Regions from separate parts of the Homo sapiens genome. Here all the other regions are linked to region 1. The links come from fine-mapping of genetic effects on gene expression. A gene starts in region 1. Each other region holds a variant in brackets. All regions are shown on one strand. Distances are from middle to middle.

Region 1 (8,798 bases):
TCCTTCTGACTAGCGATCAGAAGCCAGTAGTAATCTCCCCACTCCTCAGCCCTGCTCCCTTCTTTTGTTGGGGAGATGGGCAAACAACCACCATGACCCACAGGTCCTGGGCAGGGCAGGAGGAGGGCTCACAAAGGGCTCTGGGGAGTCTGGACGTCCCTTCTGTAAGGTGTCTCCTAGCCCCACAGCTCACCAGCCTGTGAGCCTGCTGGAGCCTGTCCAGCAGCTCCATTCACACCAGTGGCCACAGGCCACCCAAACAAACCCAACTCTGACCTCCTTCTAGCCTGGACACAGACTCTTTCCACATGGAGACTTATAAACAAACCAAGCTGGGATTTTCAGAGACCCTGCACAAAAAAGCAGATGGGAAAATGGACCAGGTGTGCCTGGCTCGTGGTCCTCCTTGCTGCAGTAGGGAAGGGAAGCACACTGAGCTGTGGTGAGGAACCATGACAACAGAAAAATGGTGCAAAGGGAGGGCCTGGGTTCAGGTCTCAACACAGCCAATGACTGATTGAGTGTTCTCTCTAGGCCTCAGTTTCCTTCTCTGCAAGGGGAAGGGATTGCCTAGGTAGCCTCTAAAACCCCTTCCAGCTCTGAGTCCAGCTGGATAAAGAAAACCCTGTAGGGTGCCAGGACTCTTCCACCCAGTCCAGCCCGGCCCATCTACCTGGGTCATGCCCCTCTGGGTAAGGTCCTGCCCCTGCTCCCCATGCCTCCTTGCTGTCTTCTGCCCCTCTGGCCCTTCCTCACTCCTCTGCCTGCCTGCTTACCCTCACCTTGGCCAGCCCCTCTGCCTGCCCCGTGCTTTTCTGCACGTCCCTCCTGCCAGGGGACTGACCAACTAAAAATAGTCCCTGCAGCCTTTCTCGCCCACAGCTGCCCAAAGAGCAGGAAATGAGGGGGGCAGGGAGGCCCATGCCCTGCCTTACCCCCACTAACTCCCAGGTCAGAATCATGTCCAGCACTCCAGCCTGGGGCTAGCGCCAACTTGGCCATCCTGGGGGCATCCCACACCCCTTTCCTAGGGGGAGGCCTGCCCATAAGTGCCTGCAATCACAGAGCTGCCCCTACCCTGCGGGAGGAGGAGAAAGGAGGCAAGCGGTCTAGAGGGAAACCTTCCCAATTTCTGACAAATCAGTGCCAACCACATTGTGGGCACCCAAAGGGCAGGGCCTGGCTCCACTGACTGGTCTTTTGAGGGCAGAAGGAATTGGCTTGGGGAAGTTTGTGACAGTCTCCTTCATCCTGGCCCAACTGGAGGGAAGACAAAATAGTGCCCCAGCCTCAATTATGTTAGTCCCTTGCTCCCCAAAACCAGGGATTTCACTAGCCACCTGCAGATATCATGGGGAAAAAAACTAAAAAATGAGAGCAGGAGATGTAGGCTTCTGTAAAGAGAGAAGCCTGGAGGCAAGAATAGGCCATGCCTGCCAGGCTGGGCATGTGCTGCCCCCAAGCTGAGTCAGAGGCTAGGAGGGAGAAGCTGGGGTGCTACAGTGCCAGAGGCTACTGTGCCCCCACCCCTGTCCCACCTGGGATTCCTGACACCTCCCAGCCCTAGGGGAAGGCCCTCCCCACAAAGGAGGAAGGAAACCAGCTAAGCGACTCTCTGGAGCCCTGCAGGGGAGCCCTGCACCACAGGCAGGGAAACCCAGGAGTCCTGGCGCCCAGCCCAGAGACAGTGAAATATCTTGGAGGGGAGGAAACAGCCCAGATTGAGGCAGACATGTGGCACCCCCAGAAGCTCCCAGATGTGACCTACTGGCCAAAGGGGCTAGATGAGGCAAAGTGAAACATTTCTGAACAAGAAGAGAGAAGAAAGTGGGGCTATGGGAATGGGGTGGCGGGGGTCAGCCTGGCTCATCGCTGTCCTTTCCTCCTTGTCAGAGTCAGTGACACTGACATTAAGGTCATCGAATATCAACCAGGTCCTGAGGACCTTGGTGTGTTTCCTCCTCTCCTAGTCTCCAGACCCCAGCCTGTTCATTCCTGAGCTTCCTCTGGCACCCCTTCCTTGGGGCCAAGCCAAGTAAGAAATCAGCAGGCCCAAGGTGGTGCTTGGGAGGCCGGGGCAGTGCCAGGGGCAGTCCTCATACCATCCTCCCACTGGCTTCCCTCCTGCCTGCTCTTAGCCGCCACACATATCTCAGCTGTCGAATCCGATTAGGGCTCCTGCCCAGTGAGCCAGACAAGGAGGCCACTGGGCAGGGGAGAGAGAGACAAGGACGCCAAGCAGGGATGGCAGAAGGAAGGTGGAGACATGGCTCAGGGGAGCAAGTATGGGGCCCCAGAGGAAGAAATGCCTGGTGGAGAGATCTGTACTCTGTGACCACAGGTGCTCTGGTAACAGCTACAACCTGCATTAGGGGAATTCTGCAGTAACCGGGGCAATAGCCCTGCCTAGTTCCTCCATCCCCCAGATGGGCAAAGGATGGGGGAAGAAAACTAAAGGCGGAGAGATTGACCTAGATTTAGGAAGAGGATTCCATCCTAGATTCCCCCAGCCATTACTACCGTTTGCAGTGAGCTTTACGATACATTGTCTCTGTGGTTTTAGTGGCAATGTCCCTGCTTGCTACTGATAGCCATTTTTACAAATGGAGAAACTAAGGCTTAGCAAAGGGGAAGACCTATATAAACACATATAGTTAAGTAACCAGTCTAAGTCTCCAGTTCAGGCCTCTGATTCCTAGTTCACTGCTCACAGTCAGAATCTCTACTTTCCTTGTTGGATCAAGACCAGAACGAAGTCTGAAGCCAATTCATTATCCACCCTGTCCTCTAAAACCAACCTTTAGGGGACCCGGGGAGCCATGGAAGAATGCAGAGCACACCCCACACCTAGACAGAGCTACCAGATGGGGACATGCCACCCATTCCTATCATACATTGATTGCTAGAGGAGTTCCCTCAGTGTGACCAGTCTCTTCTATCACCCCCCTCCCCAGTCTACTACCCCCAGAAGCAAGACACACACTCACACATGGTAAGTCAGACAAGGTGTACACCCTTCCTGTAAACCCACCAAACCAGAATGACACGCCCTAGATCTTCAGAGAGCAGGGCCTGTCTGCCCACCACAGGAGAGAAAAATAAGCCACTGTAAACAGTAGGTGCCATCTAGCCCTCTCCCAGAGAGCCTGTAGCGGGGCAGAAGCTTGGGGACCTTGTAGCTCTAGAGAAACACCAGGAGCCTGAGATTCTGAAAGCCAAGAAGCTCAGGGAGCTGGCAAGGCTGGGTGACCTCCTCAATCTGGTCCACACCCCCTTCCCTAGCCATCTGGACTGAGCCTGTTCTGGCCTGGGCCACACTCTGGTATCCCTCCCCTTCAATGCATGCAGCCACCTCTATCCAAAGCTTCTAGATCTTACAACCACATTGTCCCTACACACACACACACACAGGTGGGGTCGGGGGGCTTCTGCAGCAGGTGTTGAAATGTTGACATGGATGGGGGCTCTAAGCTGAAAGAACTTTCCTAGAGGAAAAGCTCACCAAAATGCTCACAACCTCCACTACCCTCTAGCAAAGCCTTTAGCCACCCAAGTGTGAGATGAACCTGGAAGGGGACATTAGTTCCCCTACAAGGTGTGTAGGGAGTAGGGGCAAAGTCCTGAGCTCTTTGGGTGAGGAAGCAAGAAAGAAATCCCTTGGGAAAGCTCAGGTCCCTCTCTGGCTCTCTCCTCTCTCTGTTACCTCAGCACTTGCCAATTCTCCAGTCTAGGTGAGGTGGGGGAAGGGGTATTAGGCAATACCGCAAAGGAGGGTGCAAGGGCGTGGGGCCTGGGCAGACCTTCCCCCTACTCCCCACTCTTATCTAGAGAACGGGAACTGCCTCAGGAGAAATGCAGGAAGGGTGCTGGAGGGTGCAGAGGGCTCTGAGCTTTCAGACACCCCACTGTTCCCAGGCTCCCACCTCCCAGGACTACAGTGAGCGACGGGAGAGGAGGGATGGGGAAAGCCAGAACTGGCGAGAAGGAAATGGCTAGATCAGAAGCAGAGGCCGGGGTCAAAGGCGGCCAAAGAATTGGGAAGGGGTGTGCATGGTCCTACCTGCTCAGGTGTGTGCTGGCAGGGGGCCGATGGGGTTCCCAGGAGAACCGGGGAAGCCCTCTCAGCTCGATTCAGGATTCCCCCCTGCTTCTGGGTTAGGCTGCTGCAAGAGGCACGGGTTCCCGTTGGGTCCTAAAGCCCACTCGCCAACTAGAAGGCTCTCCCCGCCCTCTTCCACCAGCCAGCCCCGACTGGGTCAGCGGGCGCAGAGCGAAGGACTGATGGGGGAGAAGTAACCCACTGGAAGAAAGATGGGCGTCTGGTCATCGGCTGGGGACAGGAACAGTTCCCTGTCTCAAATACACAGCATATGGATAACTCGAGGATAGGATGACCTGAAACAGGAGAAAATAGACATTTCTTCCTGCCTGCCCTGAGCAGATGGATTTAGGTTTTGGTGCTGGAGGTGGGGTTAAGATCTCTTTCCCTGCCACTCCTGCTAAGGCATTCAGCTAGAGATTTTGGAAAGGGAGCATTCATTTTGGTTGGGCGCTCACTTCTGTCCTCTTCCTCATGGACTGCAGGAGTCCCTTCATCCCTCCCAATTATTCCCAAGGACCTAGGAGGCCATAGAGGGTGAAAAAAGATTTTCAGCATGTAAAAAGTGCAGGCTCACTTAGATGGCAGCTGGAAACAGGGGAAACATGTAGGACCAATGTATGTGTATCTGGGAATGTGTGGGGTCTGCAAATACACATATATAGGCAAGAGTATAAACAGGTGGGGTTAGGGAAGGAGAAAAAAACAAAAAAGAACTTTGGGTTACACCTATTACTGGAAATGGTAATTGTCAGTGGAAGAACAGGACGTAGAACCTAGAGGTCAACTAGTGCCCCTACCCAGCCCTCAGTAATGTCCCGAATCTTTATGACCAGAATAAACAAGTTAAAGAGAGAATATTTTCCTAGATACCATTTAGGATAAATATAGGGGCAGAGGGACCTCAATACAACAGATCAACTTCAAGGTCACTGATTCAGTTTAGTATAGCCAGTCTTCTCAGTAGCTCAAAAGGGAGAATTCAGGTTTGGTGGGCTAGATGGGCAAGAGAAAGCTGGATAAGAATTCTGAAGTTGTGGATTGAGAACATTTTGCAAGGAGAGTTGCACATATCTCTAGCAGCAGAGCAGGGAAAACGTCATGAGGGGAAGGGCCAGAGGAAGTCAGCGACAGACTTGAGGGGAGAGGGCATGGCCTCTCCCTAGAAGGGGAGAAGACACCAGCAATGCCTCCACCTCTGTCTTGCAGGAAGAACTGAGTAAAGGAGCTGGACTAAGGATGGAAGGCCCCAGGGTGGAGTCCATGGGGTGAGTTTAGGTCAAACCTTTCACCCTAATGTGCCTCAGTTCTCTCCCAGCTGTTAAACAGGGCTCTTCGTTCTTCCCAGGCAGTTAATGAGTGTTTACAAAAGGGTTTGGAGATCCTCAGATCTCAGCTGGGCCACCACTACAGTTATAAAGTTCAATAAGAGCTGAGTGTTATTTGGGGAGGAGAGGAGTAGGGGAAGGAAACAGATACTCTCTTATAAACTAAGGATAAAACTAAGCTCAGAGAGAAGCACAAGCCTAGCTGCCACAGGATATCCTTGTGCCCATGGATGGAGGTCACCCCACCCCCCCATCAACCACCACCAAAGGCTGGCCTCCAGCTAGCTGTAGGCAGAACCCAGACTAGCAGCTGGTCTTCATTAACTCCAGCTTTTTCACCCCCCACTGTGAACCCACAGCTTCTACAGGCCTAGGCTAGAGGGGGCTGCCCTAGCCCGACCTTGCAGCTGACACTGGGGTGGGGGGCACCGCACCAAAGGCCAAGTTACCAGCTGAAAAGAAAGTTGAAGCAAGAGTCCTTTTTCCCATTGGGAGCAAGAAGAAAGCAGTGTGGGGGTGAGAGGGTGGAGGTGGGGGAATTTAGGGCAAACAGCAGGCAGTGAAGTCAGCTGGATTGAGGCCCAGAAACCCCCACACCCTGGGGCCAAGTCTTACTCTAGCTTTGCTTTCAGCTTAAGTCTTGGCGAGGCCCCAAACTAGGGAAGGCCCTGGTTGCCCCTTTCCGCCTCCCTACCCCCACCCTTATTAAATACACATTTTATCTCTCAGCATCTTCATTATCTTAACTGAAGGAGACAAGCAGTGGATGGCGGCAGCAGAGAGCGTCAGGAGCGGGGGGCGGTGCGGGGAGCAGGCGCACCCTTGTTATAAAGTGCTGATCTAGCTCTTTCAGGCAGTGTGGGAAACAGAGGAGGGATCAAAGGGAGTGAGGCTGATTCAGAACTCAATTAGAGCTTTTTAAAAAACGAAGCTGGCTCTCTCCTTTCACCAGTCTTCAGCCTTTACCCAAGCCCCTTGCACCCAATTAACTTCCACTACCAGTGCCTTGGGGCTGGGGTTGAAAATCAAGGGGAGGCCAGAGGGCACACCTTCTCCCCTTACGGAACACACCTCTTCTAAGAGGAAGACCTGCACTGTTTGTAGCTTAAGAGAAGGTATCTTAGAAAGTACCTTATCTTTTCAGGAAGAACCTGAGATCACAACTTGCCCCAAGTTAAAAAGAGGGACATCAAAGGTGGGCTCCTCCCTAAACCCTTGCCTACAGACCCAGCTTCTGGCCAATCTAGCCACACTGAGTGACATCCAGACAGGCAGCCCTCTTCACAGCCTGTAGATAAGACTCTTCCCCTCATAGCCAAAGCGTCCCACCAGCAACATGGAAGTTGCCTCAAGCAAAATGCCACTACATCAGAGGGAGTGATTGGAATGCATCTGTGAGGCTAATAAATGCTCCAAAACTGTGCCAAGACACATTTTGTAAGACAGAGCACCCTTCTTATGCAGGGGCCTGCTCCACCTCTGTGCAAAAGTACCACCAACGTTTACCTTCAGCTTAGAACTGTTCTCACCACTGAGGGAAAGGCAGTATCTTATTTGGTTCACTTATCTGTTAAACAACTATTGAGTACCTACCAGGTATTAGGCACTATACTAATTGCTAGGCACAGATACAAATGTAAATAAAATTTCAATCTTGGATCTCTTTTGTCCTCCCTCAGCAGTCAAGGTAACACGTCTCAAGATATTTAAAAAATATATAACCGGCCAGGCATGGTGGCTCAAGCCTCTAATCCCAGCACTTTGGGAGGCCGAGGCGGGCGGATCACGAGGTCAAGAGATCGAGATCATCCTGGCTAACACAGTGAAACCCCATCTTTACTAAAAATACAAAAAAATTAGCCGGGCATGGTGGCGGGTGCCTGTAATCCCAGCTACTCAGGATGAGGCAGGAGAATGGTGTGAACCCGGGAGGCGGAGCTTGCAGTGAACAGAGATCGCGCCACTGCTCCAGCCTGGGTGACAGAGCAAGACACCATCTAAAAAAAAAATATATATATATATATATATAAATAATATGTATATAATATATAATATGTATATTATATATAATATACATTATATATATAAAATATATATAATATGTATATAATATATATATAAAACCTAAATCACATCTTATTCCCAACTTCTCATTCTTATTGGTGTATCTGCTTTCTGTCTTTTATAGAGACAGGGTCTCGCTCTGTCACCCAGGATGTAATGCAGTGGTGTGATCATAGCCCATGCCGAGTTGAACTCCTGGGCTCAAAGCATCCTCCCATCTCAGCTTCCCAAGTAGCTAGGACTACAGGTGCATGCCACCATGCCCAGCTGATTTTTAAGATTTTTTTGGTAGAGAAGGGTAAGGGGGTCTCACTATATTGCCCAAGCTGGTCTCAAGCTCCTGACTTCAAGTAATCCTCCCGCTGCTGCCTCCTCCCAAAGTGTTGGCATTACAGGCATGAGCCACCACACCTGGCTTGATGTATATTCAAAGGGACACTTAGTAAAGGTAGGGAGCAATGCAAAAGAGGGGGCGCAGAGAGAATAAGGCTCTGCCAACTTTTTGATCTCTGGGTAGCTTAGACCTCACACATTTTTTTTTTTTTTTTGAGACAGAGTCTCACTCTGTCACCCAGGCTGGAGTACAGTGGCATGATCTCATCTCACTGCAACCTCCACCTCCCAGGCTCAAGCAATTCTCCTGTCTCAGCCTCCCAAGTAGCTGTGATTATAGGTGTGTACCATGGCACCCAGTGAATTTTTGTACTTTTAGTAGAGACAGGGTTTCGCCATGTTGGCCAGACTGGTCTTGCACTCCTGACCCTTAAGTGATCAGCCCGCCTTGGCCCCACAAAGTGCTGGGATTACAGGCATGAGCCATCACACCCAGCATTTTTTTTTTTCCTTTTTGAGACAGTCTCATTCTGCTGCCCAAGCTGGAGTGCAATGGCACGATCTCGGCTCACTGCAACCTCTGCCTCCCAGGTTGAAGCGATTCTCCTGCCTCAGCCTCCCAGTAGCTGGAATTACAGGAACACACCACAATGCCTGGCTAATTTATTTTAGTAGAGACAGGGTTTCGCCATGTTGGCCAGACTGGTCTCAAACTCCTGACCTCAGGTGATCCGCCCGCCTCGGCCTCCCAAAGTGCTGGATTACAGGCGTGAGCCACCACCCCCAGCCTGGACCTCACACATTCTTGCAGAGTTAGCTAGCCACAGGCAAGTCTCCATTGAGCCAGAAACATCTGTGGCAGCTCTGGGGTTGAAACACACAATTTATTTTGTCTATGCTCTTTCCATGGCAACACCCAACACTCTATGGAAGCTTAATCAGCTTCCTTGGGGTGGGGGAGAGAGATAAACCAG
Region 2 (10,862 bases), 31 kb before region 1:
GGACTCGGGCTAGAGAAGGACCACACCTTCTCAGCTCAAAGTTCCAGCGCCCAACAGAGGACTGGAACTGACCCAGGAAGCCAGGCGTCCCCTCCCGCCGACGCTGCCAGGGTGCCCCTCCCTCGCTCCCCATCCTGGCAGGGCGGGCGGCGCAGAGCGCTCCACTCCGGATTCCCCACGCCCCCGAGCCGTTCGCAGGCTCGCACAAGGGGCCGGTTTCCTGGAGGAGATCAGCAGGAAATCAGCCGGGCCCCCGGCCAGCGGCTCCCCTCCCAATCCAGCTGGCGCCCGCTCCTCCGCAGCTCCCCTCGCAGCCCCTGGGGATGGTTGGGGAGGGGGCGTAGGGCCCTCTGTACCGTCCTTCCTCCTCCCGGGGAGAGGCGGGGGTAGCTCTGGGTGTACCGCGGCAGCGGAAGAAGGCCCCTAGCCCAGCGGCCGCCTGATAAGCGTCTCCCCCTCCCCCAACTACGGGCATCCACGTGCTTCACATTCTTGGACGTCTGGGAGCGGGCGGAGGTGTGAGTGGCGGAGATTGGTGGGAGACAGATGGGGAGCCACATCCTGTGCACCCCCCTTGTCCTCTAATGCACCGAAATGAGGGCTCTGGGGAGGGAGGCAATGTCCCTAGGGCCCTGCAGAACCCAGGCCACCTCCTCCCAGAGCCAACCTGCTCTTCCCACCTTCAGTGGCAGTAAAGGGGAGAGTGGAGAATTCCCCAAGAGGGGGCTGGAGGCAGCTCCAGTCACCAGCGGACTTCCACACACCCAAGGGGACCCTTCCAAGGTGGTGGCATTGGCCCCACATATTCTAGACTGAGTCTAGTTGCCACCCTCAGACTCCGGGTCCTTCCTGTGCCTCAAGGCAAGCCCCCAGACCCCCATCACTCCCAACCTCACAGCCTCAGGACCCGAGTCCACTGACACCTCACTCACTTATATATGCACACCCACGCTCAGACTACGGGAACTGGAAACCCAGGCCTCTAGGTCTACTACCCCACCCCAGAATGGATGTGGGGACAGGTCTCCACTTCCCCATGTCCAGTGGTTTAGGGGAAGGGCTCACCAATACACTGCCTGTCCTACTCTCTGTGATCCTCCTCCCTCTCCAGTTCTGGGCCAGGAAGAGCTGAGCTGTCCCCATGGGCTAAGAAGAGACAGGGGCTGGAGACCAAGGTCTCAGATCCCAGCTTCTCTCCAGCCCTCTGGAGAAGGTGGCCAAGGCAGTGGAAGGGGTGACTCTGGCAGCCCTGCTCCAACTATCCCCCTAGGGGAGGGGGGTCTTGCTCCAGCACTGGGAGAATGAGAAAAAGGGTCCTAGAGTCATCCTCTCACTCTCTCTTCTTCCAAAGTCAAGGGTGATACCTTCCCTCTTGTGTCTACAGCCACACAGCAGATTCGGCCCTAGAGGAAATGGTCGGGGGCAGGACAATAGGAAAAGCTGGGATAGAAGTGGCTCTGGGAGGGCAGAGGTGGGCTGTCTGTCCATCTCAGGTCTCTCTTCTCCCAGCAAGAGGGGTGGGGTAAGTCCTTTGCCCTTCAACCTTCTCCAATCTGCCAGGGCCCCCCCGAGACCCACTCCACCCCTCCTCCCTGGCAGGCAGGAGGGAGGCAGCAGGTCCAGGAAGGTGGGAGATCCTCCACGGAAGAGCTTCCCCTCCAGCAAAGAGCCCAAAGCCCAGGAGGGGAAGAAACCTGAGCCATCTAACAATAACCCCCTTGCGCCTGCTCCCGCCCACCCAGTGTACACTGCCTCACAGCTGCGCAGGAAAATGCCCAGGTGTACACCCTGGTGCTCCGAGCTCCTGAGTGTGCACAGAGCCCTTCCTCCCAGAGGAGCCTGCACCCAGGCAGGGGGCAACAAGGAGAGAAAGTGACCAGGCTGCCAGGATGCTAGGATTCTCATCAGTGCCCCTCTTAGGAAGGCACAGCCCAGGACCTGGCCCTATCCCCAAGTGAAGTCAGGGTAACAAAAGGACTCGGTGGCGGAGCTGGGAAGGGATGCAGTCCTCATTTCCAGAGCAGCCCCAGACCCACAAAAACAAACTCATTCCCCAGAGAACAAACCGGATTAGGATTAGGGGGAGAGGGATTCTTCTCACCAGAGCAGCTTCTCCCCTCCACTCCTGGGGATGAAAGCCTCAAAGATGACAGCCAAGTGTCTGGGGCCAGGACAACAACCCCATAAGGACCCAGTGCCCCTTGCCAAGATGGAAGGTTAGGATGGCAGACGGGTGTCTGATGAAGTTGCCCCTTTCTGCCACACCCCACTGTCAATACCAAAGACACTGAGTGCTCCCCTGACACCCACTCTAATGACGCAAGAGCAAGGGCTGGGGGCAGCAGCTGTCGCACAGGAAGGGGCTCTCCCTCGGGCTTTGGCAAGTGGGATCTGGCGGGGGGGCCTTCCCCCGGGAGCAGACAAACCCACACAGACAGGACCTTTACCCCACCCTCCAGCCTGCTGTGAAGCTGTTGGATTCCAGGCAAGAAGATATAAACTGGGGGCAAGGGGCTTGGGCTTCATTTCTCCTGGAAGAAGTGAAACAAGAGATGAAGGAATGTTGCTTGAAAGAAGGAACTCTCAAAGTTCCTCAGCCCTAATCTAACACAAATTGCACTTAGGGTTACTGGGGGGAGGGTGCGGCCGGGAGGGTTCAATTGTCCAGCAAGGGCAACACGGGTTAAGTGAAAGGTAGAGACAGGACCTCCACTACACCCCGGGACTCTCACCCCCGAGTAGTAGTGGAAGCCCTACCGCCCACTCCCACCCCCTACAACAGCAGACTGAGAGGCCGGTACGTACAGTGGTTTGAGCCATTCCAAAGCGGAGTCCGGAGCGGGGTGGAGTACGGACCCGGGGCGGGGAGCCCCTTCTCTGGGAGCAAACAGGCCCGGTTCTGGTTATAAAAATCCACCACTAGGAAGGGATTAGGGGTGGGACCCCCCACTTCTACACTCTCGTACATCTTTCCCCTCGAAGGCAAGAGGTCCGAGCTGGGAAGTCCTGCGCGCCGCCCCCGTCACTCAGCCGGCGGCGCCATCCGAGCAGAGCAGCTGGGGGAGAGGAGACGTCCCCTCGCCCCGACTGGTGACCCGGGCAGGGGGCGCCCCCTGCCCTGAAGTCCCCGCGTCTAAGTCCGCCGGCCGCTCCGCCAGTCCCGGTGAAAAGCAGGGAAGTTGTGTGTGCTGGGAGGGGGGGTCCGTCGGCTCTCCCAGGGAAGCCTGGCGGGGCCCGGGAACTCAGCGGCTTCACCTCGAGGGGACTCCCGTCTAGAGTCTCGTGGCGTCCGAGGCAGAGTACAGCGGCTCCCCAAGTCCGCAGGCCGGGGGCGGGATCAGCGCGGGGCTGGGGGTCAACGAGCACTTCCTCCTCCCAGCCGGGGATCCGGGGCTTCTCCAGGGATTCTCCGTGGCGAGGATTCCGGGTGGGGGTGGGGATCCCGCGCGGTTCCGCCCCCGCCAGGCCAGGGGCAGCTGGCGACTCGCTCGGTCTCTGGTGGTACGCGCCACGGCCCCCCCACCCCAGCTCTGCGCGCCCCCTCCCCTCCGGGCACCACCCCCTTTCCACCGCCCCGCCCCGTCCAGGCACCGCCCCTGGCTTAACCCATTCCCGGCGCGTCCGGCTGCAGCGGGAGAAACGCAGGGAACCGAGAGGGAGAGGCGGCATGTGGACAGGCAAGTGGGGGCAGCCTGGGAAGGGGGAGGAGAGGAGAGAAGCAGGAAGGGGGAAAGGCTCCAGATGAGGAGTACACAGAGTACAGAGGGACGCCGAGTACAGGGAGAGGAGGGGGCTGCGAGGGGACAAGGACGGAAGAGGGGCGGGCGTCCTCCCTTGTACCAGTTCCGGCTCCCAGGCTCCCCCAAGGTTTGGTCAGTCCCTGGCCGAGCGAAGCCGTGGTGGAGGAGGTGGTGGGGCGGGGAAGAGGGGGGTGGTCCCGGTGTCCTCCCCTTAACACACACCCCCACCCAGGCCGGGCCTCATTTGCCTAATGCAATGCGGCTGAACTCTCGCTGAACTCGCCTGGCGGCGCCTCACCTCCGAGTGACCCACCCACCGCTGCCCGTGACATCACCCGCTCGCCAGCCCGCCCGCGGGGCTCGCCCGCCAGCCCCCTGCCCGGCCGAACCGGGCCACCTCCCCCGGAGACGCGGAGAGCGGCGGCAGGAGGCGTAGGGCCGGGTCGCGCGGGGCCAAGTGTTTGGCACCCGGGTGTGACATTGTGCAGCTCGGACGCTGTGTCGGAATGAGACACCGGCTTGTGTCATTGTCTGTGACATCATGTGTGACTCCGGCCGCCGGAACCCGACGCGGCAGCGCGGGTGCTGTTGGCACAAACACAGGCAGAGGGGGCCCTCCTCCCCACGCTCTGCGTGCTTCCGGCGAGCAAAGCCCCGCCCAAGGTGTCTCCTAGCTGGGGAACCAGTACCGGCCCCTGGTGCACTGTCCAGCTCTGGAGAGATAAAAGGAAGAGCTGGTGCCTTCCAGTGGACTACTTCATCCTAGAAGCCCTCGGGATGCACGTTTCACTGGAAGAAAGGCCTAGCTTGGGTAGGTCCCTAGAAAGAGGGGATACCCCTGGAGGAGGGGGTATCCTATTACCCCCACTCTCTAAAAGGAAGGATGGAAATGTACATGCTACCCAAGGACATTCTTCTAGAAGAAGCCTGGCTCTTTATATATGTTGTCATTTTATCCTCACAGCAACTCCAAGAGATGTTTTACAAATAAAACAGGTCTCAGCAAGGCTATGTGGGTTGTCCAAGATCACATTACTAATAATAAAGAGTAGAGCAGGTATTTGAACTTCCTGCTGCCAAAGCCCATGTTCTTACCAAGCTAGGCCAATTCAAGGTATTTTTCTGAGCACCTTCTATGTGGACACCCTGGGGAACCTGCCCTTGTAGACCTTAGGGAGCAACAGCCATTAAGCAAATAATCACTGTATGCACACACAATTGCAAACTGAGATAAATGCTATTATGCTCTGAAGAATTAACATAGGTACCTAATTTAGGTTTAACTAAATTAGGGAAGAACTCAAATAAAACAGACCTACCATAAGAGAAAGTTTGTAAGTTAATCAGGCAAAGAGTAGAAAGGAGTGTAGTTCCAGTTAAAGGGCGAGTCTGTGCAAAGGCCCTGGGGTTACAGCAGTTGATGAGTTCATTGAAGGAACTGGCAGAAGGCTAGAATCATGGGGCACAAAATTCAAAAGGAAAAGGTACACAAGACCAGGCTAGAGAGGTGGGCTCAGGCCAGACCAGGGGGGCTTATAGGCCTCAGTAAGGCTTTTGGATTTTATCCTAAATGCAAGGAAAAGCCATAGAAAGGTTCCAAGCAAAGGAAAGATCAGATTTACAGTGTAAAAAGATCTTTCCAGTAGTTGTGTGAAGAATGGATTATAGGAGGGCAAGAGAGACCAGGTAAAAGCTACTGCAGCAGTCCAGGCATCAGACAAGGGTGGCTTGGCCTAGGAAACTGGAAGTGCTGATGGACAGAGGAAGGTGGATTCAATAAACATTTTAAAGGTACAAATAACGTGGGGGGGTGGGGGTAAGGGGTATGGGAAAAGAGGTAGCAAAGAGACTTGTGTGTGACTTA[C/T]GCATCAGTGAAGTTCCTGAGACTGCAAAGCAGAGAAGTCCACTGGGCTGCTGGACAGGTGGATGTGGGGCCCTGAAGTGCAGTCAGGGCTACAGATGGAATGCTGGGGTCTGGGGGCAGGTATGCAAATCTTGACAGTGGATGAGACTAATGGCGAAGAGGACAGAGTGCTTCCATGCCTTCGGGATCTTTCAAATGATGGAGCAAGGCTCTGCGCTCACAGCTGCAAGGCGCTAAGGGACCTGAGACTCTGTCCCTGCCATCAAAGACCTTGTGGTCAGGAAAAGATGTCCCAAATGGTTACAGCTCATGGCAGGAACAGGGGAGAAGCAACTTCTGGGTAGCGAGATGAGTGTTGTTAAAAAATAAATAAGGACCCACAGGCATTCTAAGTAGGGAGGCAGAGTGTGGCAAGCAAGGGGGAACATCTGTGAAGATTTCTGGGAAGAGGCGGCATTCAAGATGTTCCTTGAAGGATAGATAGGATTTCCGGAGCTGGAGAGGAGAAGCTAGGGCAAGAGGCCCGTTCTGGGCAACAGCAAGGTCATGGGGCAGGTCAGAGCAGAACACAGTGTCCTGGGGCAGTGGGAGAAGTGGGAAACAAGGAAGGCTCTGGCCCGCAGCTGGGGCTGGGGGGCCTCCAGCGGCAGCTGTCTGCAGGCCTGGGGCCCCATCCTGCTCAGCCTTATCCCTCCCTCAGCTCCTTCTCAGGGCTTTGCGTTTAGTAAGCCCTCAGCAGGTGCAGGCCAAACTGGCCCCCACTTGTGCCAGGCAGGGCCCCCTCCTGTCCCCAACCCCATCTGGAGGGGACAACAAACAGGAAATCATGAGGCCCAGTGCCAGGTGGACACTGGCTCCCAGTATAGAGTGGCACCATCCCCCAAGACAGTACCCAGCTCTACCCTGCCCCTCACTATCACAGCCTTGCTGGGTACGTGAAACTCACCAAGGGCCTCAGCAGGAAGCAGGCGACCGTGGCCTAACGGCAACTCGCCCAGCCAAGGAGAGATTAGAAGTTTTGCTCTATTTTTTTATTTTTATTTATTTATTTGAGACAGAGTCTCGTTCTGTCACCCAGGCTAGAGTGCAGTGGTGTGATCTCAGCCCACTGCAGCCTCCACCTCCCGGATTCAAGCAATTCTCATGCCTCAGCCTCCCAAGTAGCTGGGATTACAGGTGTGCACCAGCATGCCCAGCTAATTTTGGTATATTCTGTAGAGATGGGGTTTCGCTATTTCGCTATCTTGCCAAGGCTGGTCTTGAACTCCTGAGCTCAAGCAATCCTCCCACCTCGGCCTCCCAAAGTGCTGGGATTACAGGCATGAGCCACCGTGCCCACGCTTTTTTTTTTTTTTTTTTTTTGAGTCCAAGTCTTGCTCTGTTACCCGGGCTGGAGTGCAATGGCGCGATCTCGGCTCACTACAACCTCCACCTCCGGGTTCAAGTGATTCTCCTGCCTCAGCCTCCCGAGTAGCTGGGATTATAGGTGTGAGCCACCGTGCCCAGCCAGAAGTCTTGCTTTAAGGAGGAGGAAACAGATTTGGAGAGAGCTTGGGTGACCTGCCCAAGGCCACACAGGAAGAACTGTCCTTTAAGACTCCTGCCCATGGAAGGCCCTTGGTCTGTGGGCTGGTTGAGGTTTCCAGCAACCCAGAAGTCAAAATGGGGAGGGGAGCACCTCTATTTCTGACAGCCAAAGGTTGAGTGGCCTCCAGTCAACCCTGGGAGGCCCAATCCCTCGCTGTGCCCCAACTCCACAGAGGAGGAGGAGGAAGAAGGCACTGCCCCAAAATGACTTAGAGATGGAAACCACTTCCTCTTCCCACAGACACTACTCCCTCAAAGGGCAGGCAGGCCTGCACTGGTACAGCCCCATAAGCAACACATCCCTTGGCATGGGGTAGACACAATACCTCGGCCCTGACCCACCTAAAAGGAAGACGGGCTTCCTTCCCTGAGTTCCCTCCCCGCGTCTATGCTGGGATCTTGTCCAGAGGGAACCTGTGCATTATCCTTGCTGGGAGATAAAAGGTGAGGGACCCCATTTTCATTAAAAACTCCATGTCATGTTCTTTTGTCTGACTCTACATTTCGGACTCCAAGAAAGGCATTGCTAGGCAGCACTCCCTCCACCTGGGCTGTCCCTCTGCCTGGGCTGTCCCTCCGCCTGGGCTGTCCCTCCTATTGTCCAGGGAAAGAGTGGGAAGCAGGGAAGGAGGCAGTATGCACAGACTGCAACAGCGAGGAAGTGGCAGAGGATAGGAAGAAGGGAAGGACACAACCTCCTCCTTTCTGCCTTCTGCTGGGGCTCACCCAGACCCTCGGGCATTCCCCAGTCTCTAGGCACACGAAGCAAACATGCAGCCACCCTTTTGGGGCTCCCATCCCCGGCTCCTCTGTTGATGGCTTGCAACTTCTTTGCCTCCATCCACAAATTGAAACAAATTAAGAATAAGAACTGTGGCTTTTACATTCTGTTCCTTCAGTGTCTGGAGATCGGGGGGAGGGTGCCCGCTGAGTTCTGCAAACTCCCGTGGGCTACAGCGGGCAGATTTGGGGGTGGGGATGGTGTGAACAGATTGTATCCACAGCTTCCAGGACAGGATGGAGATCTGGCCCAGGCCCCTTATCTTTCTTTCTCTCCAGCCTTCAGGATCCAAAACAGAGAGGAGGGGGTATGGCTTGGGCCTTCCCTACACCCCCTACCGGGGAAAGGTAGGTTCTAAGGCAGAGAAAGGGCCTCTACAGTGGGGAAGGGGGTTTCAGTCAGCACTAAGCCCCACCCCCCACACTTCCCACACCCAAGAGTGTGCCCCACAATCCACTCTCAAAGCTGCCTATGTAGATGGTGGAAAACAGCCCAGCTTTACAATCCTACAGTCATGATTCTGCAGTACTTTAACCTCCCCCAGCACTGTGTCCTCTGTGTAAGTGGGGATAATGTCCCTCTTCCAGGATTGCAGGGATTAAAATTTGTAAAACACAGACAAAGCCCCTGACACACAGTAGGTGCTCTATAGATGTTAGCATCCCATTCTCTCCAGCTCCCACCTACAAAGGGTCTGGGTCACGGCCAGGCACAGTGGCTGATGCCTGTAATCCCAGCACTTTAGGAGGCCGAGGCGGGCGGATCACAAGGTCAAGAGATGGAGACCATCCTGGCCAACCAACATGGTGAAACCCCACCTCTACTAAAAATACAAAAATTAGCTGGGCGTAGCGGCACACGCCTGTAGTCCCAGCTACTTGGGAGGCTGAGGCAGGAGAATCGCTTGAGCCCGGGAGGCAAAGGTTGCAGTGAACCGAGATCGAGCCACTGCACTCCAGCCCGGGTGACAGAATGAGACTCCGTCTCAAAAACAAAACAAAAAAATAACAACAAGCCGGGCGCGGTGGCTCATGCCTGTAATCCCAGCACTTTGGGAGGCCGAGGCAGGCGGATTGGGAGGTCAGGAGATCGAGACCATCCTGGCTAACATGGTGAAACTCCATCTCCACTAAAAATACAAAAAATTAGCCGGGCATGGTGGCATGCATCTGTAGTCCCAGCTACTTGGGAGGCTACAGGAGAATGGCTTGAACCTGGGAGGCAGAGGTTGCGGTGAGCCAAGATCGTGCCACTGCACTCCAGCCTGGCTAACAGAGCTAGACTCTGTCTAAAACAAATAAATAAATAAATGAATAAATGTCTTTGGCCAGGTGCAGTGGCTCACACCTGTAATCCCAGCACTTTGGGATGCCGAGGTGGGCGGATCACCTGAGGTCAGGAGTTCAAGACCAGCCTAATAAGGAGGAACCCCATCTCTACTAAAAATACAAAAAAATTAGTCCAGCATAGTGGCGGGCGCCTGTAATCCCAGCTACTCAGGAGGCTGTGGCAAGAGAATCGCTTGAACCTGGAGGCAGAGGGTTTCAGTGAGCTGAGAGATTGCACCACTGTACTCCAGCCTGGGCGACAGAGCAGGACTCCGTCTCAAAACAAACAACAACAAAAAAGAAACATGCTCAGAGAGGTTATCAGCAAGTTGTATGTGACATAAATGTCCAAGTTGTTGTTGTTTTTGAGACAGGGTCTTGCTCTGTCACCCACCAGGCTGGAGTGCAGTGGCGTGATCATAGCTCACTGCAGCCTCAACCTCTCAGGCTCATGCAATCCTCCCACCTCAGCCTCCCGAGTAGCTGAGACTATAGGCACACGCTACCACACCTGGCTAATTTCTTCTCTTTGGTAGAGGCAGGGTCTCACTATGTTGTCCAGGCTTGTCTCAAATTCCTGGGCTGAAGTCCCTACCTCAGCCTCCAAAAGTGCTGGGATTACAGGCAGGCGCCACTGCACGCAGCCAGTGTCTTAAGTTTTATTTTATTATCTTTTTTTTTCGGAGACAGAGGCTCGCTCTATCCCCCAGGCTGGAGTGCAGTGGCATGATCTCGGTTTACTGCAACCTCTGCCTCCTGGGTTCAAGCGATTCTCTAGCCTCAGCCTCCCGAGTAGCTGGGATTACAGACACGTGCCACCTCGCCTGCCTAATTTTTGTATTTTTAGTAGAGATGGGGTTTCACCATGTTGGCCAGGCTGGTCTCAAACTCCTGACCTCAGGTCATCCGCCCGCCTTGGCCTGCCAAAGTGCTGGGATTACAGGCATGAGTCACCACGCCCAGCCCAGTGTCCAAGTTTTAAACTCAGCACTAAATGCCTACTCCACAGCCCCCAGTCAGACCCCTTTGCCCATGGAATTCCCAGGGTGAACAAAAAAAGGCAGATCAGTTCTCCCCTCCAGCCAAGAAAGGTTAAGAACCCAAACGAAAGACCACTCCTCTTTAAACACTCTGTGCCCTAAGTCACTCCCCCTCCCAGCCCCAACACCAACACACAGACAGGCTGACTCTCCCTCCTTAGCTCTGGATTTAATTCCCCCAAAACACACTCAGCTCTCTAACCCTCTCACCCAATACACACAAGTCATTAATCCCCTTCCCAACACACACCCAACCGTGACCCCACCCCCAAAACACACACAGCCCTGACCCGTAGTGCACACAGAATCTGAGACCTCCACAGTAAACACCAGTCTTCAGAGACCAAGCCCCAGGGGCCAGTTTAGGGGGCGGGGAGAATCGCCGGACCATCTCTAGGGCTCCCACCCTGGCTGTAGCAGAACAAATACACAGCCCTCCCCACAGTGACCTGGAGAGGGTTTCTGTTGGTCCCATAGGCTACTAGGTCTCTGAAGGGCGCACCCAGGCCACCTAATGTGCTG
Region 3 (10,862 bases), 90 kb after region 1:
AGGTTTTTACTCCCAAATAAGTACATATATTTTGTAGCCTGCAACTCTTCCTGGGGTTGTAAGAAGACTATGTTTGCTGAAGCTGCCTGAACCAAGAGCCCATGAATTTCACAGTTATTTCAGAGCAGGAAAACAGACTAACATATACCAGGTTACTCTCCCAATCAGAGAACACAAGTAAAGAAAGAACATTTAATAATTTTCTCGGGCCGGGCGCGGTGGCTCACGCCTGTAATCCCAGCACTTTGGGAGGCCGAGACTGGCAGATCACAAGGTCAGAAGTTCGAGACCAGCCTGACCAACACAGTGAAACCTCGTCTCTACAAAAATACAAAAATTAGCCAGGCGTGATGGCACCCAGCTACTCAGGAGGCTGAGGCAGGAGAATCGCTTGAACCTGGGAGGTGGAGGTTGCAGTGAGCAGAGATCATGCCATTGCACTCCAGCCTGGGCAACTGAGCGAGACTCCGTCTCAAAAAAAAAAAAAAAAAACCCAAAAAAAAATTTTCTCTTCAACAGAACAAGACTTCTGTCTCTTGCCTCTTGCCTTTTTTTTTTCCTAAAAACACCTAGTGAGTCTAGAATCTCTTCCCTTCGTAAAAGCCATCAGTAAAACCTGAAAACTCCAATGTTCACACCTCTCCTGCATTTCACCTTGGTGCTATCACATAACTTATCAGTACCAGCTAGGGTAAACACTACTCTAGTATCAAGTGTGAGGTGGAATTAGTAAATGACCAGCCTGGCCAACATGGCAAAACCCTGTCTCTACTAAAAATACAAAAATTAGCCAGGTGGCACATGCCTGTAATCCCAGCTACTTGGGAGGCTGAGCCAGGAGAATTGCTTGAACCCAGGAGACAGAGGTTGCAGTGAGCCAAGATTGTGCCATTGCACTCCAGCCTGGGCAATACAGCAAGACTCTGTCTCAAAATAAATAAATAAACAAATAAAAAAACAAACACTACATTCTACTAGTCTTCATCAATTGACTTCATTCATCTCCACCTTCCCCAACTCTTAACTTCCCTATCTTCATCTTGATGGCAACCAATGTAACACAATATGAAATTTTTACTTTTAAAAGTTGACATTAATAAGAGTTAAAAAACTAAACATGCGGCCAGGTGTGGTAGCTCATGCCTGTAATCTCAACACTTTGGGAGGCCGAGGTGGGTGGATCACCTGAAGTCAGGAGTTCGAGACCAGCCTGACCAACATGGTGAAACCCCATCTCTACTAAAATACAAAAAATTAGCTGGGCGTGGTGGTGCATGCCTATAGTACCAGTTACTTGGGGGACTGAGGCAGGAGAAGCGCTTGAATCCGGCAGGCGGAGGTTGCAGTGAGCCAAGACTGCGCCATTCCACTCCAGCCTGGGCAGCAGGAGCGAAACTCTGTCTCAAAAAAAAAAAAAAAAAAAAAAAAAAAAAAAAACTGAATATGCATCAAATCAAAACCAGTTCTTCCCTGGCTGGCACGCAGACACACACACACACACACAAACACACACACACATGAGCAAGGCTAAGAGGAAGAAACAGAAAAACATGTTTCCTTTTGTTGTTGTTGTTGTTGTTGTTGAGGTGGAGTTTCGCTCTTGTTGCCCAGGCTGGAGTGCAATGGCGCGATCTCAGCTCACTGCAATCTCAGGTGATCCACCACCTTGGCCTCCCAAAGCGTTGGGATTATAGGCATGAGCCAGCGCGCCCAGCCTTGTTTTCCTTTAAGAGACAGGTCGGCCAGGCGCGGTGGCTCACACCTGTAATCCCAGCACTTTGGGAGGCCAAGGTGGGCAGATCACGAGGTCAGGAGTTCGAGACCAGCCTGGCCAATACGGTGAAACCCTGTCTCTACTAAAAATACAAAAATTAGCTGGGCGTGGCAGCACGCGCCTGTAATCCCAGCTACTTGGGAGGCTGAGCCAGGAGAATTGCTTGAACCCAGGAGACAGAGGTTGCAGTGAGCCAAGATTGTGCCATTGCACTCCAGCCTGGGCAATACAGCAAGACTCTGTCTCAAAATAAATAAATAAACAAATAAAAAAACCAACACTACATTCTACTAGTCTTCATCAATTGACTTCATTCATCTCCACCTTCCCCAACTCTTAACTTCCCTATCTTCATCTTGATGGCAACCAATGTAACACAATATGAAATTTTTACTTTTAAAAGTTGACATTAATAAGAGTTAAAAAACTAAACATGCGGCCAGGTGTGGTAGCTCATGCCTGTAATCTCAACACTTTGGGAGGCCGAGGTGGGTGGATCACCTGAAGTCAGGAGTTCGAGACCAGCCTGACCAACATGGTGAAACCCCATCTCTACTAAAATACAAAAAATTAGCTGGGCGTGGTGGTGCATGCCTATAGTACCAGTTACTTGGGGGACTGAGGCAGGAGAAGCGCTTGAATCCGGCAGGCAGAGGTTGCAGTGAGCCGAGATCACGCCACTGCACTCCAGCCTGGGTGAAAGAGCGAGACTCCGTCTTAAACAAACAAACAAAAAAAGAGACAGAGAGAGAGATGGGGTATTGCTACGTTGCCCAGAATGGTCTCGAACTCTTAGACTCAAGCAATCCTCCTGCCTCAGCCTCCCAAGTAGCTGGGATTACAGGCAGGTGCACCATTGTATGTCTTTTAAATATCAATATCTCAATCTCATTTTCAGAGATCACTTCTATGCAACCACTTTAAAGATCCCATGTGTTAAGACAAACTTTTAGAGGCAGGGACAGAGAAAACCTATATTTCAAAGGGGAAAAAAATGAGAGCTTAATAATTTGCCTTGAAGTTATTTACTAAATCCATAGGTAGGCTAAAACTGTCCTTATTCCCTGTGGTTCTCTTCTGATTTGTAAAAGGAGAACAGAATAGCCAAAAACATTCAGTAAGACAGTCAAAAACCAAAACCGTAAGGCAAAAATAACAGCATGAAAAAGGACGGGGACCCTGGGAGAGCCCAAAGCAATAACAGATTATTCAAGTCCTTTAAAAAATATGAATTCTGGACAGGCGCAGGGGCTCACGCCTCTAATCCCAGAACTCTGGGAGGCAGAGGCGGGCGGATCACGAGGTCAGGAGATCCAGACCATCCATCCTGGCTAACACAGTGAAACCCCGTCTCTACTAAAAATTCAAAAAAAAATTAGCCAGGTGTGGTGGTGGGCACCTATAGTCCCAGCTACTCGGGAGGCTGAGGCAGAAGAATGGGCGTGAACCCGGGAGGCGGAGCTTGCAGTGAGCCGAGATCGCACCGCTACACTCCAGCCTAGGCCACTGAGCGAGACTCCATCTCAAAAAAAAAAAAAAAACGAATTCTGGGCCAGGCACAGTGGCTCATCCCTGTAATCCCAGCACTTGCGGAGGCCGAGACAGGAGGATCACTTGAGCCCAGGAATTCCAGACTAGCCTGGACAACAGGGCAAGACTCTGTCTCCAACAACAACAACAAAAAAATATATATATATACATATATATATATATATATATATATATATATATATATATATATATACACACACACACGTTAGGCGGGAGTAGTGGTCACACCTGTGGTCCCAGCTATTGGCGGGGCTTAGGTGGAAGGACCACTTCAGCCCGGGAGGTCGAGGCTTTAAGGAGCCATGATCATGCCACTGCACTCCAGCCCGGGCGACAGAGTGAGACCACGTCTCTTAAAAGAAAAAAAAAGAAAAAAGAATTCCATCACATATCAGTTCCTTGCCTCAATGCTATTTTTAAGAACTTTCCTTCCTGATAAAAAACTCGACCATACACACTGCCATGCTGAACACTTTAACATTTCCATCTTGGCCGGGTGCAGTGGCTCACACCTGTAATCCCAGCACTCTGGGAGTCCAAGGTGGGAAGATCGCTTGAGCCCAGGAGTTCAAGACTAGTCTGAGCAACATAGCCAGACCCCACCTTTAAAACAAAAAAAAAAAAATTCCATCTTCCCTCACTTCACACCACTTCAACATGAACCCTCAACTCCAGACGTTCCAATGCGCATCTTAACATTCTCAATCCAACCTTTAACTAAATTCTGATTCCTTTTCAAAGAACGCTCTCAAGATTCCCTCTAGTGTAAGCAGTTTCCCGAGCCATCTTCCCAAACACTAGCTTTCACCTAACTCAATCCCCAAAATGTCACACTGGACTCCTCACCCACAGCATCCTGCTAATTAGCCGTTCCCAACAGGTCCTCCGTTCCCGTCTCCCTTTTTGCGCACGATTACCTCGTTCCTCACAGAGTTGCCGCCTTAACTCACCCAACCCTTCAGGAGCCCTTATTGCCTGTCTCTCAAAAACGTTCCTCCCCATTTTTCCAGTCCCCGCTCGCCCCATACCAATATTCGACCACTCCTCCCCAGATTCCCCACGCCCTCTCTCCTCCAGGTTCTTCCGATACAGTCCCCCGGCCCCCCGCCCCTCAGGCCCCACCCGCAAGACCCCTCTCCCCCTCCGGCCCCTCCTCTAATGCCCCCCTCTCTTCTCAAGCCCCGCCCCGAGCCCCCCTCCCCGCGACTTTCCCTCCCACTCAGGTCCGCAGGTCATTTCAGCGACTGACCCAGCCGCCCCGGCCTCTTTCCGACCTGGCCGCAGCTGCTCTGGGAGCGAATCCTCTGCCGCCTACACTCCGGCTTCGTCCTGTCCTGCTCGCCCCCCGGCAAGCTCTTTCTCGCCGTCGCCGCCGCCGCCGCCGCCGCCGCCGCCGCC[A/GCCGCCGCCA]CCGCCCCTTTTGCCAACCCGGAAATGGATCTGCTCCCACCGTCCCCAGCGTCCGCGAACAAAATGGAGGCGGGGGAAAAAGGAGGAGAGAGCAGGGAGCGGAGAGATGCGAGACGCATGCGCCCCTGGGAAGCCCGCCCCCTGCCGGCCCACGTAAAGGCGGAAGCGGTTGAGTGGACGCCATCTTAGGAAGGTCACAGGAATTCCGCTTACCAGCTAAAAGCTGGGTTTGCAACTTTAGCTGCAATTGGAATCACCTGGCAAGATTTAAATACTATGATGCCTGGTTCCCACCCCTGGAAATTATAATTTAATTCTGGGGTGCAGCCTAGGCATCAGGAAATTGTTGCAGGTGATTCTAACGTGTTGCCAAGGTGGAGAACCACTGAGCTAAACAGTCATTGTTGAATATACTCCTTTCGTCTTTAATCCGCCGCACACACACACACCCTCCCCCCTAAATATCCTTCCTTAATCTCGAGTTAACGAAGAACCCGCCTCGGCCAACCTTGCAAAGGCCAAGTAGTCAAGCTCCGGTTGTCATGGCAACAGAGGCAGGCCACTGCTCACAAGTCATCATTTACGTCATCTTACCCACCTGACTCGAACACCGTCTCTTCTTTCTCGGGCTGGGGTTTCCTCCAGCTTCCAGGGCTATAGGATGGTGCTGTGGACCCCTCCAGCTGCTTGGGCCAGAGAGAGAAATCCTGTGCCCTCTTTGATGGAGCTGCTGTTAAACCCTGACAGCTGACTAAGTATCTCTCCCTAGTCCACCCAGAAAAGCGCTTTCCATTATAGCTTCAAAATACTCTTGGTTTAATTCCATTCCCAGCACAGAATCCGAAGTAAGGGGGCAAGATTGGGACTTAGTCCCCATTACTTACAAGCTGTGTGCCATTGGGCCTTAGCTACCCTATCTGTAAAATGGGTCTAATAGTGCCTGTCCCGTCTGTCTCATAGAGTTGTTGCAAAGCTGAAATCAGTTAATGAATGGGAAAACGTGATAGAGCATAAGTTGTTATTATTTTTGTTTTCCTTCTATTCTGCCATGAGTAGTACTAGGCACCACCCACTAGTCAAGTAAATGTCACATTGAGTACCTGCTAAACACCAGGAGATGGCTACAGAGGTGACTAAGACAGAGCCTCTGCCCTCAGGGAACTCACTACGTTGGTGGGCAGACTGGCATAAACAGCTAGCTGAGATACAAGTCAGCGTGTGATTAGTGCTGTGGGACGTCAGACAAGGGAGCAATTAATTCCTGCTAAAGAATGGAAGGAGGTTTCCTAAATGGTTTGGAGCTGGGCCTTGAAGGATGAATGGAATTTTATTATTAATCAGAGAAGGCAGGGAACACAGCAGGCATAGGGATCAAGGACACGAGGTAAAGATTTTCAGCTGTCTACATCCTGCATGGCCATACGTGGGGCGATGGAGCCAGGGAGATGGTGGGTCCAAACACCTTACCAGAGCCTCCCAACTCTTCAACCTCATCCCCTGCCTGTCCCCTCCTCACTCACTCTACATTATGAGGACCTGATTTCTATCACTGCAATGTACCCCATTCAGCAGTTCCCACCTCAGGGACTGTGTACTGGCTATCCTCCGCCTCTTCCTCATTTTTCAAGCCTTACTGCAAATGCTTCGTCCTCAGAGGGCATTCACTGCCCACTGTAGCTAATGTAAAGCCCCATGCTCTATCACACACTCTGTGATAAGGGCAGCCGCTGGGATGAATATAGGGACATCTCACCCAGACTTGGGGAAATAGTGATATAGGCTTCATGAAAAAGGTAAATGGCCCAAGTGCAGTGGCTCATGCCTGTAATCCCAGCACTTTGGGAGGCTGACAGGGGGGATCGCTTGAGCCCAGAAGTTCAAGACCAGCCTGGGAAACATGGTGAAATCTTGTTACTACAAAAATTACCCGGATATAACCGGGCACGGTGGCTCACGCCCGTAATCCCAGCACTTTGGGAGGCCAAGGCGGGCAGATCACCTGAGGTGGGGAGTTCGAGACCAACCTGACCAACATGGTGAAACCCCGTCTCTACTACAAATACAAAATTAGCCAGGTGTGTTGGCACATGCCTGTAATCCCAGCTACTTGGGATGCTGAGGCAGGAGAATCGCTTGAACCCAGGAGGCGGAGGTAGCGGTGAGCTGAGATCACTCCATTGCACTCTAGCCTGGGCAACGAGAGTGAGACTCTGTCTCAAAAAAAAAAAAAAAAATTAGCTGGACACGGTGGTGTGAGCCTGTGGTTCCAGCTACTTGGGAGGCTGATATGGGAGGATCACTTAAGCCCAGGAGATCAAGGCTGGGCTGAGCCATGATTGGCCACTGCACTCCAGCCCGAGCAATAGAGTGAAACCCTGTCTAAAGGAAGAAAAAAGAAAGTAACTAAGTGAGGCCATACCCATATTCTAAGTGAGACTTGAGGGACAGGTAGGAATTGACCAGGGAAGAAGTGAAGGAAAAGCATTGTAGGGAGAGTTTGGGCAAAGCAAGAAGAATCATGGCACATTCCAATAACTGAACGCACTTTTTTTTTTTTTTAAGAGACAGGGTCTTTTAAAGACATGCTGCAGTGCAGTGGCACAGTAATGGCTCACTGCAGTCTTTTTTTTTTTTTTTTTTGGAGACAGAGTCTCGCTCTGACGCACAGGCTAGAGTGCAGTGGCGCAATCTCGGCTCACTGCAAGCTCCGCCTCCTGGGTTCACACCATTCTCCTGCCTCAGCCTCCCGAGTAGCTGGGACTACAGGCACCTGCCACCATGCCTGGCTAATTTTTTTTTTTTTTTTGTAGTTTTAGTAAAGACGAGGTTTCACCATGTTACCCAGGATGGGCTCGATCTCCTGACCTCATGATCCGCCCGCCTCGGCCTCCTGAAGTGCTGGGATTACAGGTATGAGCCACTGCGCCTGGCCTGCAGTCTTTTTATTTTTTCTATTTTTTGAAAATGAGTCTCACTCTATTGCTCAGGCTGGAGTGCAGTGGTGTGATCTCAGCTCAATGCAACCTCCATCTCCTGGCTTCAAGCGATTCTCCTGCCTCAGCCTCCCGAGTAGCTGGGACTACAGGCACCAGCCACCATGCCTGTCTAATTTTTGTATTTTTTTTTTTTTGAGACAGAGTTTCTCTCTTGTTGCCCAGGCTGGAGTGCAATGGCGCAATCTCAGCTCGCCTCCCGGGTTCAAGCGATTCTCCTGCCTCAGCCTCCCGAGTAGCTGGGATTACAGGCGCCTGCCAACACGCCCGGCTAATTTTTTGTATTTTTAGTAGAGATGGGGTTTCACCATGTAGGCAAGGTTGGTCTCAAACTCCAGACCTCAGGTGATCCACCTGCCTTGGCCTTCCAAAGTGCTGGGATTAGAGTTGTGAGCCACTGCGCCTGGCCCTAATTTTTGTGTTTTTAGTAGAGATGGGGTTTCACCAAGTTGGCCAGGCTGGTCTCAAACTCCTGATCTCAGATAATCCATCCACCTTGGTCTCCCAAAGTGCTGGGATTATGGGCGTGAGCCACCACACCTGGCCTGTAGTCTTGAACTTCTGGGCTCAAGTGGTCCTTCTGCCTCAGCCTCCTATTTGGGACTGCAGGCACTGGTGACCACATGCAGCTAATTTTTACATTTTTTTTCTTTTTCTTTCTTTCTTTTTTTTTTGAGAAGGAATCTCGCTCTGTCCCCCAGGCTGGAGTGCAGTGGTGCAATCTCGGCTCACTGCAAGCTCCGCCTCCAGGGTTCATGCCATTCTCCTGCCTCAGCCTCCCAAGTAGCTGGGACTACAAGCGCCCGCCACCACGCCCAGCTAATTTTTTGTATTTTCAGTAGAGATGAGGTTTCACCGTGTTAGCCAGGATGGTCTCGATCTCCTGACCTCGTGATCCACCTGCCTAGGCCTCCCAAAGTGCTAGAATTACAGGCGTGAGCCACGGTGCCCGGCCAATTTTTTTCTTTTCACAGACACAGCATCTCCCTTTGTTGCCCAGGTGGTGTGGAACTCCTGGCCTCAAGTGATCCTCCTACTTCGGCCTCCCAAAGTGCTGGGATTACAGGTGTGAGCCACCTCACCTGGTTCAGAAAATATATTGATATAGAGTTAGAACTTCTGGGGGAGGCAAGAAATTAGGTTACAGAAGTCATCATAAGTTTGACATTTAGTAACACTTACCATGTGCCAGGCACTGTCAAAACCTCACATAGCTCATTTAATCCTCTCAATAACTTTCTGAGGCAGATATTTTTAAGCCCATTTTACAGATGAAGAAACAGACACAGCAAGGTTAATCATCTTGCTCAAAGTCACATATCTATAAGTAGCGAAAGTAAAAGTATCTCCAGAGTCTGTGTTTTTTGTTTGTTTGTTTCAGACAGTCTTGCTGTGTTGCCCAGGCTGAAGTGCAATGGCGCGATCTCGGCTCACTGCAACCTCTGCCTCCCGGGTTCAAGCAATTCTTCTGCTTCAGCCTCCCGAGTAGCTGGGATTGCAGGCACATGCCAGCACGCCCGGCTAGTTTTTGTATTTTTAGTAGAAATGAGGTTTCATCATATTTGCCAGGCTGGTCTTGAATTCCTGACCTCAAGTGATCCACCTGCCTTGGCCTCCCAAAGTGCTGGGATTACAGGTGTAAGCCACCACACCTGGCCCTTTGTTTTTTTGTTTGTTTGTTTGTTTGTTTTGAGATGGAGTCTCGCTCTCTCGCCCAGGCTGGAGTGCAGTGGCGAGATCTCGGCTCACTGCAAGTTCCACCTCCCAGGCTCACACCATTCTCCTGCCTCAGCCTCCTGAGTAGCTGGGACTACAGGAGCCCACCACCACACCTGGCTAATTTTTTTTTTTTGTATTTTTGGTAGAGACGGGGTTTCACCATGTTAGCCAGGATGGTCTCAATCTCCTGACCTCGTGATCCGCCCGCCTCGGCCTCCCAAAGTGCTGGGATTACAGGCGTGAGCCACTGCGCCCGGCATTTTTTTTTTTTTTTTTTGAGACAGAGTTTCACTCTTGTTGCCCAGGCTAGAGTGCAATGGCGAGATCTCGGCTCACCGCAACCTCCACCTCCTGGGTTCAAACTATTCTGCTGCCTCAGCCTCCCTAGTAGCTGGGATTACAGGCATGTGCCACCATGCCCAGCTAATTTTGTATTTTTAGTAGAGACGGGGTTTATCCATGTTGGTCAGGCTGGTCTTGAACTCCTGACCTCAGGTGATCCGCCAGCCTTGGCCTCCCAAAGTGCTGGAATTAGAGGAATGTGCTACTGCGCCCAACCCCTTTTTTTTTTTTCGAGACACATCTTGCCCTGTCGCCCAGGCTGGAGAGCAGTGGCATGATTTCAGCTCACTGCAAACTCCACCTCCTGGGTTCAAGCAATTCTCCTGCATCAGCCTCCTGAGTACCTGGAATTACAGGCGTGCTCCACCACACCTGGCTAATTTTTGTATTTTTTAGTAGAGAAGGGGTTTCACTATGTTGGCCAGGCTGGTCTGGAACTCCTGACCTTGTGATCCACCCTCCTCGGACTCCCAAAGTGCTGGGATTACAGGCGTGAGCCACCGCACCCCGCTGAGCCTGTGTGTGTGGTTTTTTTTTGTTTTTTGTTTTTTGTTTTTTTGAGACGGAGTCTCACTCTGTCGCCCAGGCTGGAGTGCAGTGGCACGATCTCGGCTCACTGCAAGCTCCACCTCCCGGGTTCACGCCATTCTCCTGCCTCAGCCTCCTGAGTAGCTGGGACAACAGGCACCCACCACCACGCCCGGCTAATTTTTTGTATTTTTAGTAGAGACAGGGTTTCACTGTGTTAGCCAGGATGGTCTCGATCTCCTGACCTCATGATCCACCCACCTCGGCCTCCCAAAGTGCTGGGATTACAGGCATGAGCCACCGCGCCCGGCCTTTGTGTGTTTTTTTTTTAGATGGAGTCTCATTCTGTCACCCAGGCTTGAGTGCAATGGTGCGACCTCGGCTCACTTCAACCTTCACCTCCCAGGTTCAAGCGATTCTCCTGCCTCAGCCTCCCGAGTAGCTGGGACTACAGGCGCATGCCACCACACCTGGCTAATTTTTGCATTTTTCTTAGAGACAGGGTTTCACTGTTAGCCAGGCTGGTCTCGAACTCCTGACCTCGTGATCTGCCTGCC

Evidence for each region.
Region 2: its variant is fine-mapped to the expression of RARA in whole blood (TOPMed, PIP above 0.99).
Region 3: its variant is fine-mapped to the expression of RARA in whole blood (INTERVAL, PIP 0.96).

Annotation. Positions count from the first base shown.
Region 1 is chr17:40,304,549-40,313,346 of GRCh38, reverse strand. It overlaps RARA (retinoic acid receptor alpha), which reads right to left and starts at 4,167. Exons shown (of 9, transcript NM_000964.4): 1 at 4,061-4,167. It overlaps CDC6 (cell division cycle 6), which reads right to left. Exons shown (of 12, transcript NM_001254.4): 12 at 8,690-8,798. RefSeq lists enhancers at 881-1,381, 2,971-3,854, 4,166-4,295, 4,306-4,475, 3,855-4,740.
Region 2 is chr17:40,334,811-40,345,672 of GRCh38, reverse strand. All of the region lies in intron 2 of RARA (retinoic acid receptor alpha), which reads right to left. RARA-AS1 (RARA antisense RNA 1) reads left to right here and starts at 2,537. Exons shown (of 3, transcript NR_110861.1): 1 at 2,537-2,797; 2 at 2,983-3,677; 3 at 3,973-4,806. RefSeq lists silencers at 139-188, 3,949-4,178 and enhancers at 1-343, 2,545-3,094, 3,559-3,608, 3,095-3,645, 3,681-4,259 and 2 more. The variant C/T (reference allele first, on the strand shown) is at 5,605.
Region 3 is chr17:40,213,230-40,224,091 of GRCh38, reverse strand. It overlaps WIPF2 (WAS/WASL interacting protein family member 2), which reads right to left and starts at 4,788. Exons shown (of 8, transcript NM_133264.5): 1 at 4,600-4,788. RefSeq lists enhancers at 4,169-4,947, 4,848-4,957, 5,398-5,447, 10,841-10,862. The variant A/GCCGCCGCCA (reference allele first, on the strand shown) is at 4,724.